Linked DNA regions of Homo sapiens. The protein of the gene in region 3 purifies or fractionates together with the protein of the main gene of each other region. This does not show direct contact. Each region holds a gene or a part of one and is shown on either strand. Other genes may lie near its edges.

The links. The genes of interacting proteins can lie anywhere in the genome.
Region 1: the proteins of PSG1 (region 3) and KLHL25 purify together in Homo sapiens (affinity purification with mass spectrometry; 2 studies listed by BioGRID and IntAct, with this or other methods). This does not show direct contact.
Region 2: the proteins of PSG1 (region 3) and MEGF8 purify together in Homo sapiens (affinity purification with mass spectrometry; 2 studies listed by BioGRID and IntAct, with this or other methods). This does not show direct contact.

What each region holds. Positions count from the first base shown.
Region 1 is NC_000015.10:85,758,822-85,763,951, reverse strand, and holds the end of KLHL25 (kelch-like protein 25), read left to right. Parts: intron 1-2,940; 3' UTR 2,941-4,626; downstream 4,627-5,130. UniProt on the Homo sapiens protein: Substrate-specific adapter of a BCR (BTB-CUL3-RBX1) E3 ubiquitin ligase complex involved in various processes, such as translation homeostasis and lipid synthesis.
Region 2 is NC_000019.10:42,321,432-42,328,638, forward strand, and holds the start of MEGF8 (multiple epidermal growth factor-like domains protein 8 isoform 1 precursor), read left to right. Parts: upstream 1-4,203; 5' UTR 4,204-4,812; coding exon 4,813-4,999; intron 5,000-7,207. Other genes in the region: TMEM145 (transmembrane protein 145 isoform 1 precursor), read left to right, coding at 2,152-2,358, 2,847-3,095. UniProt on the Homo sapiens protein: Acts as a negative regulator of hedgehog signaling.
Region 3 is NC_000019.10:42,876,692-42,883,828, forward strand, and holds the start of PSG1 (pregnancy-specific beta-1-glycoprotein 1 isoform 2 precursor), read right to left. Parts: upstream 3,023-7,137; 5' UTR 2,891-3,022; coding exon 2,827-2,890; intron 1,588-2,826; coding exon 1,222-1,587; intron 1-1,221.

The DNA of each region.
Region 1 (5,130 bases), on a different chromosome or scaffold from region 3:
CACTTCCCACTGAGCTTGGCTGCCTGCAGCCCCAACCAGCGCATCGTCGTCTGCCACCTAGAATGTCGTCTGGCAGTGCCTGGGCCCGAGATGGCTTCTGTGACCACCCCGCTCCCTACGTTTCCCTCCCTGACGCTACTCTCCCAGGCAGCAGTGGGGATCAGGCCAAGGATGCTGGTGAGAAGTCCAGCTCTCGCTAGTCCCCACGAGCATGGCTGAGTCTCCTGCCTCCAGCTGGGCCCAACTGCCCCTGTCCCTGGAGGCCCCTTTCCATCCATCCTGTAAGACTCTGACGTTAGCTTCAGAAGCCACCAGGAGGTCCCCTGCACACTGTGGCCTCTGCACCCCAGATCATGGCCCCTGTTTGTCCACAAGCATTTTTTTTCCCCTGTTCTGGCCACCTGTTGGAGCTCTTCATAGGTGTGAGCGTCTGCATCGAGTTCCCTGTCATTCTCCAGAGCTGTTTGTCGTAGGTCCTGCTGTTGGAGGGCGCCCACTAGGACTCTGAGAGGTGAGACAGTTGGCATCACATGAATGGTGAGTCAGGGCTGGAGCAGGACTTGAGCCCTGAGTGTGCCGCCTGCCTGCAGGCGCCTCTGGGGAGCTGGCCACGGGCATCCTCACGTCTGCGCCCCTGGCACAGAGCACAGGCTTGGCCAGCAGCCGTCCAGAAGCGGCGGGGAATTGCTGAGCTGGAACCTGAGCGACCTCCAGGGCAGCCCCTTGCTCCAGTGTTGCGGTTGGATCCACAGCCTAGGGGATAGCAGCCAGCGGCTGCAGGAGGCCCCCGCTTACCCACTAAGGGTGATCTTGCTGTGAACATTCTCTCCTTCTCTCTCTTTCTCTCCCACTGGGCACCCCGTACTCCAGGCCCTTTAAGGCGCAGACTCCCAACCCTTCTTTCCCACCCGCCTCCAGCATGGGGGGGCTGCCGAATGCAAGGCAGGCATCCGGCTGCCGACAGCTTGTCTTCTCTTCAGGGTGTTGCTGGGGCCTAGCCACTGGGGTGCAGGGCAGGGTTCCAGTCCTGGCTCTGGGAAAGGCCGAGCTCATTAATCCACTGTGGGCTCCGTCACTGCTGCAGGAGGGACAGTACAGTACATTCTCTCCTGTCTTAAAGAAGTTGCTACAGATGGGAAATCCCAGAGCACAGGCCTGAGGATTTCTGCCAGCCTTGAGGGTTGGGCCTGGCTAAGCAAGTGCCCAGGACGGAGTCCGTCCGTCCAGGCATCAGCAGTCATTCGTTCCTGTGCCAGGCTGGGGGATAGAGCAGCATCCCACCCTTGATGGGGCAGGCTGAGCCTAGTGGGGCAGGCCCTACACCAACAACCCACAGGATGCACGTTGGCCAAGACCTGCTGCACACAGGAAGTGCAGGGCGGCCGCTGACCCTTGTCCACTCTGCAAGCTGGAGGATTAGCCCATTTCACAGTTGAGGCCAGGCCCCAGGGAGCACCTGCCAAAAATTAAAGGGACCCAGCCTGAGAGGGAACAAAGGGACCCAGCCTGAGAGGGAACACAGGAGCCTGGCCCCGAGGCTCCCCAACCCCTGTGCCTCTAGCTGTCATCTGTATTCCTTTCAGCAACTCAGGGTGCCTTGGGGGACACCCCCAGGTAGGTAGCGTGGCTGTTTAGTTCCAGGTAGCAGTGAGGCCTTGCCCTGAAGGGACCACATGTCAGCATGTGGCGTGCTGGGATGGGGCCAAGACCGGGCAGCCAGGCCCCAGAGGTTCGGGTTTGCAGTCTTAGAGCATCTCAGGATGGTTAGGGCCCCTGTGACCCCAGCTTCTCACTTGTGAGGAGCTTGAAGGGATTTGGGGGCCTTCTCAGTCGCCGAACCCAGCCTCTGTATCTGGAAACAACTTGAGCACGTGGGGAGGGCAGAATTCCTGCAAAGCAGCCTTCAGAGAACAGACGGCCCAGCACTGTGTGGGATGGAGAGGTGTACCCCACTTAAAGGGGACAGCCGTGGAGCCTCAGTGCTGGCTTCAGTGTTTAATTGAAATGTAACTAAGGTTACTTAATACACACAAGCATACAACTAGAAAGCCCCTTATGTTCTTGTTCTTACACAACTAAAACTAACACGTACAGCTTAAATACAACCAAAGCCAAAAACCGCGGACAGCGTCACCATTAATCACTGCTTTGCTGAGGCTCCTTGCCTTATGGAGTGCATGAACACTCAGGGTTGCTAGAGTGCTCCGCCTGCCTGTGCCCGCCTGTGCGAGAGGGCTCACCTTTTCCTTTCAGGGCCTCGGAGTGGTATGTGAGAGGGAACTTACTCTATTAGGGGAATTGGCTCACTTGGTGATAGAGGCTGAGAAGTCCCATGATAGGCTGCAAGCTGCAGAACCAGGAGAGCTGGGGACAGACCTCAGCCCAAGGACAAAGAGCCAAGAGCCTGGGGTGGGGGTGGGGTGGTGGGCAGCAAGTCCCAGAGGCCAGAGAACCTGGAGCTCTGATGCCCGATGGCAGGAAAAGAGCAACCTAGCTCCAGAAGAAAGAAACCTGAGTCCCCATTTCCTTAGCTTTTTATTCCACCAGGGCCCCTGCCCATCTGATGGTGCTCACCTGCAACCACGGCTCTCACGCCGGTCACCTCTGGAAGCACAGACTCACTGGGGCGGCCTGGCCATTCGAATCAAGTACCAAGCCGCCTGGGTTTCCCTTCCAGCACTGAGAATACGTAATGTGTCCCCGGGCGTCTGGGTATCCCCGAATCCAATCAAGTTGACACCTGAGTCACCTGCCACTCAGTGGGGAAAGCAGGCCTGGGGTGCCTGAATCACCAGACTGCGCTGCCGGTGAATGGTGGATCTGGCGTTCTCACGCCCGAGCCTCATGGGCAGCTGTGTCATTGTCATTTTGTTCCAGATCAGGTCAGAACAGAACAATGTGGCCACTGATTGATTTTCTCTTCCTCTCCTCCCTCCACAGACCGCGGCCTTCAGTGTCACAGCGTGGCCTTGCTTGTCTGCCACAGCGGGAGCTAAGCCGGCCCTGGGCCAGCACTCCGAGAGGTGGAAGGGGCCCTGCCAGCTCTGGGGAGCAGCAGCCTTGGGCTGTTCTGAGCTTTAGGCAAGAGAAGAGAAGCATCTCTTGCATCCGTGCCCCTGGGGGCCTCTTCAGCTTTGCAGTGGTTTGTGGGAAGACATACCTCCCAGAGGGGCATGGACTGCCACCAGGACTGACCCTGGCGTCGGGGAGAAGGACACTTGCAGAGCCTTGAGATCACCTGTTTGGCAGGTCCTGGACTGGGGCCGGGCAGGCAGGGGCAGGGAGGCGCCCCGGGTGGGCTTTGGGGCTGCGGCACTGCCACACATCCTTTCCCTCCTGGCCTGCCCTGCTGGGGCTCTACTGCCATCTATAGATGGTGTCCTGGGCCTGGGAAACTAGGTTCCCAGGGGTTGAGACCAGAAAGGTGACCAAGACAGATTTTTTAAGGTGCAGAAACTGCAGGGGGGCCTCAGTGACATCCATGAGGCCTTATTAGCAAAGGACACCCAGACCTCCAAGGTTTGTGGGCCCCTTCCACAAAGCTGTAAGTCCCAGCCCACCTACTCAGGGCCTTGCTCAGTGCTGTGGCCCGGTGGGGACACAGTTGCTCGTGGCCACTCAGTGGAGCTGGGCCTGCAGCAGACTCAAGGCTCCGAGTGCCCTGGGGGTCACCCCTCCCCTCCCCTCCTCAGAGCCCACCCTGAGAGGCAGCAGTGACCCCCATGGCACACACCTGCCAACAGCACTGGGGGCTTCTCCCCAGGAGACCACGCTGCCCTCCAAGACCAGGAGCAGCTGTGAGCTGGAGACAGCAGAGGGACCCCAGGGTGTCCCCTGCAGATCCCACCAGGGCCGCATCCATCTCAGTGTGGAGGACAGTGACGGGACCCTCACCATCCTCTTGCGTTTTGGCCCCCATTTGCTCCCTGAGCTCCAAGATAAGAATGGCCCCGAGAGAACTGCTGAACATTTGTTCATTGCTGTCACCTCCTGAGTCACTGGGGTCCCTCACCAGCACCTCCCTGACACCTGGGCTATGGAGAGGTTGGCGCCTGTCAGTGACCATCCTAATGCCTCTCGCTCACTCCCAAGCCACCATTTGAGAGGGAGGGGTGTTGGTGCCCTGACAGGGACTGGGCAGGGTGTCCAAACTTGGGGCTTCCCAGGCACCTGCAGTGTGAACACTGCTTGGCTGGCTCAAGATTAGGGCCGCGGAGGGGGCTGTGCACATACCAGTTACTTAAGCAGCCACGAGTGTCCCCCATGCCTTGGTGCGGGTCCTGGAGGCCTCTTGGGGGTGGGACCTTTGGGCAGGGTTTGCCCACTGACACGCCCGCCATGGGGCACTGGCTGCATGGGGCTCCTTGGACCCTGTAGACCCAGCAGACCCCGCCTGTGTCAGGCCAGCTGCCCGAAGGCACTTGGCTGTGGTCCCAGGGGACGGCTCTGCTGGCACACTCAGGAGCCTGGCCGCGGGGACTGCAGGGAGGGTGCCTGGACCCGTGGGGTTGCTTCATTGAGATAAAGCACACTTATCACATAGCACAAAGGACGTGCCATGGTGCTTTCCCCAAAAGTTGTGTTGCTTTTATCAGTTTTCTAACTTAATAAAAAGAGTTGAGAAAATTCTTTGCCTGCCTTGTGTGCTGGGATCAGTCTTGGAGACATTGCTGGTGGCTGACTTTGGTCTTGTCCCACCAGCCAAGGCTCAAGGCCTGCCTGCTGGCATCTGCCCCTCTCATGAGCTGGGAAGGGGGAACCCACCCAGATGAGAGGTCTCCCCATTCCTGTGCCTCCTGAAGTTGCTTTAGAAGCCATGAAGTTGATTCCGTGGAGAGTCCTGATCCTGTCTGCCCCTCCTGAGAGTGATTCTCTCCTGGAAACTCTGGTAAATAGAAGTTGGGAATGTAATTCCATCCATTCGAAAAGGCAGAACCTCCAGTTGATGCTCCTTTGTCTGAAAATAACCCGAGCGCCATTCAGAGGGGCGAAATGGCTCCAGGAGGCAGCTTCACGGCCGCAGCGCCAGCTCACGGCACCGTTGCGCCCACTGGTTGCACCGTGGGCCCTGGGCTACCTGCCCTCCTTGTGCGTTTTCATAGTCACCATGAACCTCATGAGCTCAAGCGT
Region 2 (7,207 bases), 560 kb from region 3:
CAGGCTGGAGTGCAGAGGTGCGATCTCGGCTCACTGCAACTTCTGCCTCCCAAGTTCATGCCATTCCCCTGCCTCAGCCTCCCTAGTAGCTGGGACTACAGGCGCCCACCACCACGCCTAGCAAATTTTTTTTGTATTTTTAGTAGAGACGGGGTTTCACTATGTTGGCCAGGATGGTCTCGATCTCCTGACCTCATGATCCGCCCGCCTCGGCCTCCCAAAGTGCTGGGATTACAGGAGTGAGCCACTGCGCCTGGCCCCCACCACGTCTATTCTTTGCCCTGGTTCACATCCTATCTGACATTCTTGGTGACAGTTCTAATATTCATTAATTTATTCATCAATTGTTCACTGGGCACCTGTCTTGAACCAGTCTGTTTCATTCTAGGAACATCCATATGCATTTACTCCTGCCCTCTTGTTTAATTGTCAGAGCAGCTCCAGGAGAGGGTGGATAATTGACATTGTTCCCACTACACAGAGCGGGGAAGCTAAGGCCCAGAGAGGAGAAGTGACGTGCCAGGGCTCCGTGGCCTTTGGCGGCAGGCAAATACTTTGAACCCTATCCTTCTCCAGCAGACCACAAGGTCTGAAATGAAGGGGAACCAGAAAGGGCAACAGGCATGACCCAGTGTCCCAGCTTCTGACTCCAGGGATCTACAACGTACCCCGTGTAGGGAGTGGGCCCAGCCACCGAGGGAGGGGACAGGTCCCCATCCTTTGCCTCAGAGGCTGACATAGGTACAGACTCGCTCACCTTCCCAGGCTGGTCTATCCTGAAGCTCTGCAGGAAGTCAGAAAGGGACAGAAAGAGGAGAAATGCTGAGAACCCATCATGTGCTGGGCTCTGCACCAGTGGTTTTCATTTCCACCCTCTCATCTTTCCAAGTAGGCGCTACAGTCCCTTTTCCCCACAGCGAGGCTCAGGGAGTTTAATCAACATGCCCCAGATCCCATACTCAGTGAGCTACAGATCCCAGAGGCGGGATGCAGGCTCAGAACGGCAAGCACAGCGCCCTTCCTGCTGTATCTCAGCCAGCTTCCTTCCTAAGGATGCTCACGTTAGCTCAGCACAGCTCCACCTGGGTATCTCAACGCTCATTGCTTTCAGCTCCTTGTTCATTTTTTTCAGCACAACCTTAGAAGAGCTGTGTTAGGTTTCCGGGATATGGCGGTGGAGTCACACCCAGTCCCTGCCTTCACAGCCTATCAGACTAACTGGTACCAGACATCCCTACATTCCACCAATATTTATTTATTTATTTATTTATTTTAAATTTTTTTTTTTTGAGATGGAATCTTCCTCTGTCGTCCAGGTTGGAGTGCAGTGGCATGATCTCGGCTCACTGCAACCTCTGCCTCCTGGGTTCAAGCAATTCTCCTGCCTTAGCCTCCCAAGTAGCTGGGATTACAGGCGCACCACCACACCTGGCTAATTTTTGTATTTTTAGTAGAGATGGAGTTTCACCATGTTGGCCATGCTGGTCTCAAACTCCTGACCTCAGGTGATCCGCCCGCCTCGGCCTCCCCAAGTGCTGGGATTACAGGCGTGAGCCATGGCGCCTTGCCCACCAATATTTACTGAAGGCTTATATGCGCCAGGCATGGTTCTAGAAGGTACTAGGGACTCAGTAGGGAACAGAAGAGTCTGGTTCCTGCCTCATCGAGACATTTTAGAGTCTATTAGTTGCTGTCCAATTGAACTTTCTGTATTTATGAAAATATCCTATTACCTGCACTTTCCAATATGGGAGCTACTAACCACATGTGGCTGTTGAGCACTTGAATGTGGGTAGTGCATAGTGAGTGTGTAGTGAGGAGTGTGACCAAAATTTAAATTTTATTTTGATTAAATTTAAGCTACATGCAGCCAGTGGCTATCATACAGTGCAGGACGCTGACCCTAAGCAATCAGTGACAGCTCAGTGATCAGGCCTCTGATGGAGGAAGCACAGGCCGAGTTTTGTTGAAGGGAAAAGGTGAGGGTCCAGGGCATTTGGAGAGCCCAGAGGGGACGCCTAATCCAGTGTGAATGGCTTCAGGGAAGTGTGGTGGATGTCAACTGAAAGGGAATCCTTCGGACCCCAAGTTTATGGGGACAGCCTCCGGCCTGACAGTGCCTCTCACACCTGCTCCTGGCCCTGGCCTCAGATCATGACCCGCCCATCAGCGGCCAACAAGAACTTCCCGTACCACGTGCGCACGTCGCAGATCGCTTCAGCCGGAGTCCCTGGACCCGGAGGGAGCCAATCCGCTGACAAGGCCTTCCCGCAGCACGTCTATGGGAACGTGACGTTTATCAGCGACTCGGTGCCCAACTTCACGGAGCTCTTCTCCATCCCCCCGCCCGCCACCTCCGTAAGCCCCGCGGCCCCAGCGCCCGAGGAGCTGCTGGCGCCGCCCCTGGAGTACCTGACCCCGCTCCCGGCCCCGCCGCCGCCCCCAGCGCCCGGACCCCTGAGCCCTCCTCCTGCCTTTCGCACTCCCCGCGCCCCAACACCGCGCCGCGACCGTCCCCTGGCGCCCGCGCCCACCCTGCCTGACTGGGTTCTGGCGCTGTTGCGCACACCCCCGCAGACTCCCTGCGCCGTGCCCCCACCGCCCGCCTTCCGCGGCTCTCCCCCAGCTCCCCGGCCGCCGCCGGAGTTCGCCCCGCGCGCCCCGACGCCGCCCTTTGAGTACCTGGCCCCGCTGCCCAGGCGCCCCGCCACCCAGTCCTTCCCTGACTGACAACGTGCGTCCACACCTGGGGTGGAAGGGTTCTCCGGGGGAGGGGGACGGGCCTTCGGGGCCGCATCTGCCCCCCGAGGGTCCCGGACGGCCTCTGACCCTGACCCCCCTCCCAGGCCGGGAAGCAGGTGGAGGAGACAGCGGTGGCGGCGGCGGTGGCCCCGAGGGGCCGCGTGGTGACCATGGCCGAGCCGGGCGCAGCCTCCCCCCCACTTCCCGCTCGGTTCCCCAAGGCGGCCGACTCGGGCTGGGACGGCCCGACGCCGCCCTACCAGCCGCTCGTGCCCCAGACGGCAGCGCCGCACACCGGCTTCACCGAATACTTCAGCATGCACACGGCCGGGGGCACTGCACCCCCGGTCTGAGCACCCCTGCCCGCCCCTGCCCCATGGGCCATGACCGGGCCCCGGCCGGGCTCCGGACCCCTGCTTTATCCCGGCCCGAGAGCTCGCCCATCCCCGGCCTTCCCGACCCTTCCCACCCCGCGCGCCCAGGTTGGGTACGCTGCGTCCCGCCCCCCTCCCCTCTGTGCCAAACGGTCCCGCGGGAGCCGCTCTCCCCGTCCCCTCCCTCAGCCCCTGCCCCGAGCGGCGCCGGATTCTGGGCTCCCGCTGTTCCGTGACCTCCGGCCCCCTGGCCCCCTTCGAGACCTCTGACCCCGCTGGACTCCGGAACACCCGTGGTGACCGCCGGGACCCTGCCTGTGACTCTCCAGGACTCTGCGACCCCGGGATGGATATTGCGATGCTGGTCTCGACCCTGAAACCCTCCCTCGGATCTGTGACCTCGGACCCGTACTCCATCTGCCGCATCTCCATTCCGGGGGCCTTCCCTCGGGTCCCTGGCAGAAAGACATTTTACCCCTTCTTGCCAAAATAAAAAAGGATTCGTTTTTATCTATAACATGGCTTCTTTTGCATCTTGATGGTGTTCAGCGGCGGGGCTGAGCCAGAACTATGTCAGGCTCGGGACCTCAGTGTGTCCATCTGTGAAATGGGAATTTGGAACCGGAGGCAGGGGCCTGTATAACCTGATCTTTATGTTGCCCCAGAATGTGGGAACATTGAAGATGATCAAACATCTAGCAGGGTCTTGCACCGCTCCTTTATTTTTGCCTTCCTTTCCTCACTCAGAGGTAGAGGCGCCCTCCAGTGGCCCATGCTTTGCTGAACCACAGGCACCCAGAGTTTGGGTTACGATCTTAGCACTGCGCATATGTGTATTTCTCTCCCTCCAGGAGGACGCTGCTGCGCATGCGGTTGGGAACAAATGGGCGGGGATTTCCCCGGAAGTCTCCCTTTATGGAGGGTTGGGGTTGGGCGCTCCGCAGTCCTCCCAGGGCCGCTCTGACCGGCCGCTCTGTAACTTCTCGCCTCCTCTTCGCCGTCCCTCCCACAGCGGCTGCTCGGCTCCCGCCCCCTCGCCCTCCCACAGCGGGTCTTCCCGCGGCCGCTCTGGCCCAAGCGTCCCCTCGTCTCTCTGATCTGGCCCATCCGGCTTCGGAGGGAGGCGAGGGTGGGTGAGCAAAGGGATTGGGTCTGTGGGGTCCAGGCCCGAACCCCTGAAGACGGGCTCCGCCCCCGGCACCCGCTCGCGCCCCGCCCCCGGCTGGAGGAGTCTCTCCTGGACCATCCGAACCTAGCCTGTCCCGGCCCGCAGCCTCTATGGAGGCTCCTGCCGGGCCGTAGAGCCCTTCGCCCCCTGGGGACCCACCCGTCTATAAGGTCCGTTTGGCCTGCAGCAGCCTGAGTCCGTAATGCTGGGCACTGTTCATGGGATCGGCCCCCTATGGAGCCCTGTGTCTATAGGGGACTCCTACGGTCCCTAGGGTTCGGCCCCGTCCATAATGACTCCATATACAGGGCCTTCCATCGCTCTATAGGGCTCAGCCCTCGGCTTCCAGAGCCTGTCAGCAGTGGCCGTACCCTTCGCCGGGACTGCCGGGTCTCCGGGACCTCTTCGATCTACAAGGTCATGTTATGCCTATAGAGGTCGCATTTGCAGGGCCTCACCCCGGGTAGAGGGTCCTCTCCAGGTTTTTACGGCCTGTCCCCGCTCTAAGGGTCAGTGCAGGAGGCGGCGATGGCCCTGGGCAAGGTTCTGGCCATGGCACTGGTTTTGGCCTTGGCCGTGCTGGGGTCGCTGTCCCCTGGGGCCCGGGCGGGGGACTGCAAGGGGCAGCGGCAGGTGCTGCGGGAGGCGCCAGGCTTCGTGACGGATGGTGCGGGCAACTACAGCGTCAATGGCAACTGCGAGTGGCTCATCGAGGGTGAGTGGGGCCGCGTGGGTCACTCACTAATTCGCTGGTAGTTCATTCATGTGTGCATTCATCCACTCACCACATTCCCAGAGCTCGGTTCTGGTCCAGGCCTTTTGCTCTAAAATGCCTGACACCCAGGGTTGCAGCCAACCTGGGCCCTGCCCTGGAAGGCCTCCAAGTCTGGTGGGGGAGATGCACCTACACCCAGATTTACAATTACAAGACAGGAGCATCAGTGCCGGGCCTTCTGAGTAACTGTTAAGAACTCAGGGTCTGGGTCCAATCATTTGGCTTTGAATTTGGTTCTACTACTACTACTTTTTTTTTTTTTTTTTTTTGAGATGGGGGCCTCACTCTGTCACCCAGGCTGGAGTGCAATGGTACCAACACAATTTACTTACTGCAGCCTCGACCTCCTGGGCTCAAGTGATCCTCCCACCTCAGCCTCCCAAGTAACTGAGTGTGTAGAGACAGAGTCTCACCATGTCGCCCAGGCTAGTCCTGAACTCTTGGGCTCAAACGATCCTCGCACCTCAGCCTCCCAAAGTGTTGGGATTGTAGGTGTGAGCCACTGTGCCTGGCTTCTTATTATTAGCTTTGTGACTTTGAGCAGGTGGTTTTCTTTCTCTGAGGTTCTGTTTCCTTCCCCCACAAATGGGATAACAACAGTACTCACCTCATAGAGTTGTTGGAATGAAATGAAAACAGGTATTTAACATGCCTGATGTGTGGCATATAGTAACTGTTCAATAAATGGCATTAGGATTATTGTTGTTGTTATTTGTGAAGTACTTCAATAAAAGCATTTTTCTTCAGTCATTCATGTGCCAGACATTATGTTTCCCATTGGACATAGCCCAGACTGAGACAGCTCCAGCAATCCCTGGTGACTTAGGTCTTGGAGTCTAGTTGGGGAGACAAACACATTAATAGTGAGAGACAAGAGTGGTCTTTGATGGAGGAACCCCAGAGGCCTGGGAGAGCCCAGAGAAAGTGCCTGATCTGGGGCCGGGGAGAACAGAGAGGCTTCCTGGAGGAGGAAATGTCTAAGCTGAGACTTAAAGGACCAATAGGAATCTGTCAGGAGTGGGAGGAAAGGCCCCAGCCCTACCCTTCTGGGCTCCCAGTCAGTGGGAGAGACAAACCCACTCCGAGGCTGTTTGTTTTCCTTTTCCACCCAATAAACTCCTATGCATGCCTCAGAACCCTGCCCCAGTGGCTCTTTCTCTGTGAAGACATGTGGCTTAACCTGGGGTATAGCTGAGATCAGAGGCATCTGTACGAGGGAGCAGAAGGGCATTCCAGGCAAGAATAGCTGTGCAAAGGCGGGGAAGCGGGAGAGTGATGCTTTTGAAGAACTAGAAATCCAGTGTGTTAAAACATAGAATACTGGCAGGGTATGGTGGCTCATGCCTGTAATCCCAGCACTTTGGGAGGCCGAGGCCGGCAGATCGCCTGAAGTCAGGAGTTTGAGACCAGCCTGGGCAGTATGGTGAAACCCCATCTCTACTAAAAATACAAAAATTAGCTGGGTGTGATGGCGCGCGCCTGTAGTCCCAGCTTCTCAGGAGGCTGAGGCACAAGAATCACTTGAACCTGGAGGTTGCAGTGAGCCAATATTGTGCCACTACGCTCCAGTCTGGGCGGCAGAGCGAGACTCCATCTGAAACAAAAACAAAAACATAGAATACAAGACAACGAATGAGCCAGAGGCTGCAGGGTGGGAGGAGCCAGCAGGTGTAGGGCTCTGTGATTTTGAGCTGTATCCTGAGGGCAATACAGGGGTGAAAGAGAAGTTGAAAGGCAGTACCTGCAGAAGCCCAGGAAGGCCTCACAGAGTAGTGGATGTAAAAGCTGGCCTCCAGACAGGGGAGGTCCTGGGCAAAGGCCAGAGGTGTGACAGAGCCTGGATCATGCAGGGCCTCCCTTGGGAGGCTGTGGAGCTTTGTCTTTGTCTGGGGGCTCTGGGGAGCTATGGAAGGGTTTTGAGCAGGGAGAGGACATGATCTGATTTATGTTTTAGAAGATCTCTCTGGCTGCTGTGTGGGGTATGGATGAAGGCCTGTTTCTCAGTGATAGCATGTCTACCTGTTCCCAGCTTGGGGGCCATTCCTGTCAAGCTAGTGGGATGAGAACAGAATAGGAAGTGTGTGTGTGTGTGTGTGTGTGGCGAAGGGGTCTGTGTGCTGGATATAAATCACTCTCTGGCCTTAAAGA
Region 3 (7,137 bases):
TGGTTAAGATCTGAGGAGGAGGCCTGGACATTTTTTTGCACTGACTCTGATGGTTGAAGCAGGTGATTTAGTTCTGGAGTGCAGACTAATCAGCTGACCATTTGCTCTCACTCCTCTGAGGTTTGGATGCCTAAGAAGAGAGGATTTGAGCCAACAAATGACTATGGGGTGCTTGGAACCCAGTAAGCCCTCACTTCTGGTGGAGTAGAGGATGGGCCTGTGGCTACAGACAGACCTCATGTGACCCTGATCTCCCCTTTGTGTTTGTGTGACTCTTGCTCAGTCACTGTGCCTTCCTGTGCCTCAGTTTTCTCTCAATCAAATAAGCTAAATGGCAAATGGACTGTGGCTTTTCATGCTATCTGTGAATAAATGTTAAATTATTCACAGTCACCTGACCTAATGCTTGGCACAGTGGAGGTTTCACACAAACAGCATTTATTATTAATTTGCTTCCATGAGAAAGCACCTTTACGTCAGATCCCTGTGGACAAGCTGCTACCTGGTACATCTTCTCTCTTCTGTTTCTGCTTCTGGGGACATTAGTCTTTCTATGGACTATCCTAAGCCTCCTAAGGCAGTTGGGTGATGGCCTACAAAGCTTGTCTTTCTGTCCTCTCCACTCTGAGTATCAGGTGAAGAAAGCTCTGTCCTGGCCCAGATGAGGCTCTGAGGGCTGAGCCCTGGCTGGTGAACAGCTCCAGGAGACACAGTCCTCTGACAGCTGGTAAATCCTTGGTCCCAGTAAGCCCTGCCCAAGAAGCCACAACCCAGTCCCAGCACAGGCTCCTCAGCTTTATCTGGAACAAGGATTTAGGGACAAGGGTCTGGGGTTGAGGCTTCTAGGGCTGAGCTTCTCTGAGAGTATCTCAGGGGGCCCCTCAGGCCAAGCCCTACTCAGTTATCCAGGGTCTTTCTCAGGGTCAAATTTATGAAGAGGGCATGAGGTGCTTGGCTGAGACTGATCTCCTCCTGCTGAGTCCCCCCATCAGACTGTCCTTCCTCTGCAGCGAGTGTCTGCAGGGTCTGGATGCAGGAAAGGAATTCTGATCTGTTGAAATTTGTCTCCTCTGTGTGTGTCCTGCACTAAATGCCCAAATCCCAGCATGGGACATAACGCAGTGAGTGACACAGGCAGAGTCCAGGCCTGACAATCCTGTGTGTGTGAAGTAGAAGTGACCCCTGTCCCCCAACACCCAGGGATCATGTGGAATCACTTACGGTGTAAGGTGAAGGTGAAACGTCCAGTTACTCCTCTAGTCCCATCATCTCCCTTTATGATGTGTAAGGTGTAGGATCCTGCGTCCTCCCGGGTGACATTCTGGATCAGCAGGGATGCATTGGAATATGCTGTTTCTCGTCCACTATATGCAGGCCCATATATAATTATTTCACCGTCTACTACATATGATGTAATGTAATGGTAGAGGTCCCTCATTTGCCCTTTGTACCAGATGTAGCCGGTAAGATTCTGGGGCAAATTGTGGACAAGTAGAAGAACATCCTTCCCCTCGGAAACTTTGGTTGGCTCGGCTTCAATCGTGACTTGGGCAGTGGTGGGCAGGTTCCAGAAGTTTAAAAGTGATGCTAGGAGGTGGAGAGAACATCAGTCAATATTGAGACCTATGTATTGGTGTGAAAACATGGGGCCCTGGGTCCTGAGAAGGTCTCTTCAGTCCTCAGCCTTGACAACACAGACACACACACACATACAAACACACACACACACACACACACAAAAGCGGCATGTGTGATTGTGTGTGTGTATGTGTGTGTGTCCTACTGTCCTACTAGGTCAAGGTCAGCAGCATGACGCCCATTCCTTCAACACTTCTGACGTTGGCATTTTTCTGTTTGGAATCCTCTTCCCCAGGGGTCCGCATGGCCCCCTCCACAATGCCCTCAGGTCCTGCTTACATCAGGGCATCGTTAGACTTCTTTCCTGATGCCTGCTTCAGAGACCCTGGGTCTTCCCTTTCTGACCTTTCCCTGCTCTGCTCCCTCCAGGGTTCTTGTCAACACCTGACCTCACATTCTAGATCTCTTTGCATGTCTGTCTTCCCCCCCATGACAGCGTGAGCTCCGTGAAGACAGGGACTTTTGTGATCTTGGTTGCACCCCAGTGCCTGGAACAGGCTGCAGACTCCTGTAGATGTGAGAGTTCTCAGGGCCCTCCATGCCCTGGGTGTTTTTTTTCCCCCAATTGTTGAGGTTTCTTGCTGAGGACAGTGTTTCCTGCCCTGTTTATATTTTTATTTGAGGTGTCATCTGCTATAGTTATTATTATCATTTTTCAAAATATGGTGGCCCCTGATGATTAATCAGGAAAACAGAACACTTAAGATTTTCCTACCTCTTACCAATTCCGGTCCAATACGACTTTCCTGTTTTGACCCCTGTCCCTCTCTGGTGTATTTTCCCCTATCCAGGCTCCAACAGAGCCTTCTTTCCTTTTTTTCTTTTTTCTTTTTTTTTTTTTGAGATGGAGTCTTGTACTGTCGCCCAGGCTGGCATGCGGTGGTGCTATCTCAGCTATCTGCAACTTCTGCCTCCCGGGTTCACGTGATTCTCCTGCCTCAGCCTCCCGAGTAGCTAGGATTATAGGAGCACACCACCATACCTGGTTAAATTTTTGTATTTTCAGTACAGACAGGGCTTCACTGTGTTGGCCAGACTGATCTTGAACTTCTGATCTCATGATCCACCCACCTCAGACTCCCAAAGTGCTGGCTTCTTTCATTTTTTAGAACCCCATCCTCTCCAGGAGACCCCATCCAGTCACTCTGCTTCCTCCTCCTGTCCTCTCCCAGGAAGTTCTCTCCTCACCTGTGAGCAGGAGCCCCTTCCATTTGATGCGCTGTGTGCAGGGAGGGGCTGAGAGGGTTCCCATGGTCTCTGCTGCTTGTGTGTTCTCCTCTGTGGAGATAAGCCTAGGATCCAGAAACTCTCTGAGCACGGCTGTCAGCTGTGCTGTCCTTCCTCTTTCTGTGCTGAGCCTCTTCCCAGGGCAGGAGCAATTCTCAAGCTCATGGGCAGGGTCAGGCCCAGGACACCTCTCTGTCCCCTCCTCTCTAAGTCCTGCCTCCTTGTCCCTCCTTCTGTTTCTCCTTTTGTCTGTGTTTCAGGTCCCTGGGAATTGTGGCGGCCTCTGCCTTTTTCAGCAGTGATTCTTTCACCAAACCTCAAGACACACTTTGTGCAGACACACAGACACACACACACACACACACACACACACACACAGAAGAGATACACACAGACCCACACAGTCAGACACATACCCTGCAGGTTGGGCAAGAACAGTCCTGGGCCTCAGCCTCCTGGTGTCCCCATGGCTCTGGGTCGGGGTGCAAATTAACGCCCTTTGGCCTCTTTCATCCCCATCAGGCTCTCCCCTTCAGTGCAGGAGGCTGGAGCTGTACCAGGTCCCTGTCAGAATGATGCCCCATTGTGCTGTGGGTGAGCTGTGTGTTGCCTGGTGAGAGGGACCCTTCCTTTCTCTAATCATGTCTAGCTTGGCTGCAGCTTCCAAGGATGGACATTCAGGACCTGGGTGTCCCAGAGGAAACTGTCCTTTCTGGCGGTGTGCAGGGTGAATCTCTCATGCCTCTTGGGAGGAGAGGCCTGTGCTGGTTGCTCAGTGGGGGCTGTGAGTCCCATAGTCAAAGGGACAGTTCTCTGTCAGTCTATGGCTCCCTGGGGTCTGGCGGCTGAGCTGGAGCTCATAGTTTCTCATGTTCTTCCTGACCATCTTTGATGTCCTCTCTTCTCTGCCCAGCTGACTGTCCTGTGGTCACCACACCTTCCCTGTGGTGGTGCAGGAGGAAGTGGGGAGTTACCCAGGAACCCTGCGGGACATGGCTCATTGAGATGCGGGAGGGGGAGCCTGGGACAGAGCAGGGGTTCAGAGCTGGAGAGATTCATCCCAACTTACTCCGTGGCCATGATGGGCTCAGCCCTCCATATGCTGACATACCCAGGGGTCTGTCCTGATGGTTTTGACCTGGCCAAGCTGCTGTGTGTAGAGGAGGAACAGGCAGTGGCCAGAGAGCCTGTCTGGAGGGACATTGCTCTCACCTGAGAGGGCGGGTGGGGGTGAGTTGTGTTCTGAGATCAAAGAGCAATAACATTCCCCTTCTTCCCGCAAGCACACAGGAGAGGTCTGTCTTCCCAAGGGACAGCTGGTGTTAGGTGGCCACATCCCGGATGGTGCCTGTGTGTGACCATCACACGCGCTCTGAGCCCCCAGGGTGCAGCGGGCAGGCAGGTCACAGGGTGCCTGGCTGATTCCCGGGGAGGCTGTGGGCCCTCAGGCAGCCGCTGTTCTGTGTCAGCGCTAGGCTTGGCCTGGGATGCCCCAGAGAACAGGACAGATGGAGCAGGGGTGGGCATTTAGGGAGCAGTGCCAGAAAGAGTTGATGAGGATGGAGGGAGGTCACGAGGGGAAAGCACCCGGTGTGGCATCGCGTGCACCAGCGCTGCCCTGGGAGATGCCTTTAGCTGGGCCCAGGGAAGGAGCAGGTGTGTGGGGAGGAGCTACCTGCAGGGGGAGTGGTGTTAGGTTGGCGGCCGCCAGGTCAGGGAGGAGCTGACAGTGTCCGTGTGGGGAGCATGGAGGGCGCTGAGGACTTGGGCAGAAGTGACCCTGTAGAGGGTGGACACTGCTGGGCTGTGGGTTCCGCTGAGTGAGGTTGGCATCCCCTGGGAAGACTCCAGGCTGGGAGGGACTCTGTCCCCCTCTGGTGGACAGGGAGGGAAGTGTGAACGGCAGCAATTCCAGGCCAGGATGCATGTTTTATTCCACGTGGATCTGCACAGTTCACACGAGGTCACACCTGTGTTATGTTACAGCCCCATCACCTTCCAGCCCCGTGAGTCCCAGTCTCTGTGGCTCTATGTTCACTGTTCTCCCTCTTTCACAATCAGATGTCCCAAATGCAGATTTTTGTCACCTTCTGTGAGTTTGTGTTTGTGTGCAGTAGGCGGCACTGTGTATACCCTGGGGGCAGTGATGTCTGGGGCTGAGCACTGCAGTTGGGCTTGGGAGCAGCAGGGTGGGAAGATCAATGTCAGGGGGGCAGGGACAAGTCATTTTCATTTTCTCACTCCCAGGGACCAGAACCCAGGATTCTGACTCCAGGGCAGAGTACCACACCCTGCTGGTGTCCCTGGATGTCATGATGCTCATAGTGTCATGTTGCCTTGGCATTCATTTTTTAAGGTGTAAGTTTATTTGCCTCAAATCAGAGGCAGGGCTTGGTCACCATGGCAGTTTTCAATACTGTGTCTGGTTCAAGTGGCTCCAGTTGGTGTCCAGAGATCAAATCTTAGAGACATCTCTCCTGCTTGGTGTGCTGGGCTCCCGTCTCTCCAGCTGCTTTCTTTAAACTGATAATTCTGACATTCGCCCTCACATTAAAAGTGACCACCTCTCAGTCACAGCGTGAGCTCCTGTTCCCAGTGTTTGCTGCTTGCTTTGAACACATCCATTAAAGCTCCCTGCTGGAAACCTGTCAGATAACACCCTGGACTTAATAAAGCCATTGGCTTACCGGTCTCTTCTCTCCTCCCTCCCTGGGCTCACTGACCTCTGTGTCTGTGGTCTCCAGGTGTGCCAAGTGCTTCCCAGTGTCTGTAAGTAGTAAAAATACTTACACTTTCACGTTGTGGTTGTATTGCTGTGGCCTCACATGCCATCCAGGGCCTGACATTGAGGCTGCCTTATGGGACCTGTGCTGGCTGAGCCCCTGCTGGAGCTCTTGTTTTGGGGCCTCTGGTTCTCTTGGGGACAGGAGCTTCCAGCTAACTTGATTGAAAAACTGATGCATTTCATTGAAAACACTGGGTCAGATGATGTATTCATAGGCTTCAGCTCCTATAACAAACACCTTAGCCTGGGTGAATTAAATAATAGAAATCTATTTTTCACAGTTCTGTGAATAATGTGCTATTTTAACCACTTTAAAATGCACAATCAATGAAATTAACCGCATACACCGTGTTAAATTACCATCACCAGTATTTTTCCTAGAAAATTGTTATCATTTTAAACTGAAACTTTGTATCTTTTAAACAATAACTCCCTGTATGTTCCACCCTAGGCCTTGATCACCTCTACTCTGTCTCTATGAATTTGCCTATTCTTGATGTTTCATATAAATGGAATTATACAATTATGTTATTTTGTTTCTGACACATTTCACTTAGCATAATGTTTTCCAAGTCCATGCATGTTCCAGCGGGTGTCAGAGCTTCCTTCCTCTTTATGGCAGATTATCATTCTGTTTTATGTGTCACCATATTTGTTTATTCATGTGTTGATGAACACTTGGATTGTTTTCATATTTTATCTTTTCTGAATAATGCTGCAATGAACATTCCCATGCAAGTACCTTTTTGAGTCCGTGGATTTAATTCTTTGGGTATATACCTAGGAATGGATGTTATTTCAAATGAGAATTCTATAATTAGCTTTTTGAGGAACAGCAATACTCTTTCTCCTAGCTGCTGTACTTTTTTATATTCTCACCAGCCATGTATGAGGATTCCAAATTCTACATAATGCTGCTACTTGTTATTTAACATTTTAAAAGAACGGTAGCCAGTTTTGTAGGTTTGATGTGGTGTCTCATTGCAGCTTTGACTTTGTATTTTCCTAATGACTAATGATGTTTAGTATCTTTTCATGTCCTTCTTGACTATTTGTATATCTTCTTTGAAGAAATGTATATTTGAGTCTTTTGCCCATTTATAAATTTAATGGTTTCTCCTTTTGTTACTGAGTTGTAGCTAGTTCTTTATATTATCTGGACATGAAAACTGCCTATATGTGGTTGTCAAATATTTTCTCTCATTCTGTGTCTATTAATTATTGTCTTGATAATTTTCTTTGATGTACAAAAGGCTCACATCTTGATAAAGCCCAATTTATCTTGTTTTTCTTGTTTCTCATGCTTTTGTATCATATCTAAGAATCCATTGCACATTTGAGTTCATCAATATTTACCTCTATGTCTATTTTAAGATGTTTTATAGGTCTGATATTTAACTCACTGATGAATTTTTCAGAGAATTGTTTGATATGGTGGGAGGTAGAGTTATCTAAATTCACTGTTTTGCATGTGGTTATCTAGTTGT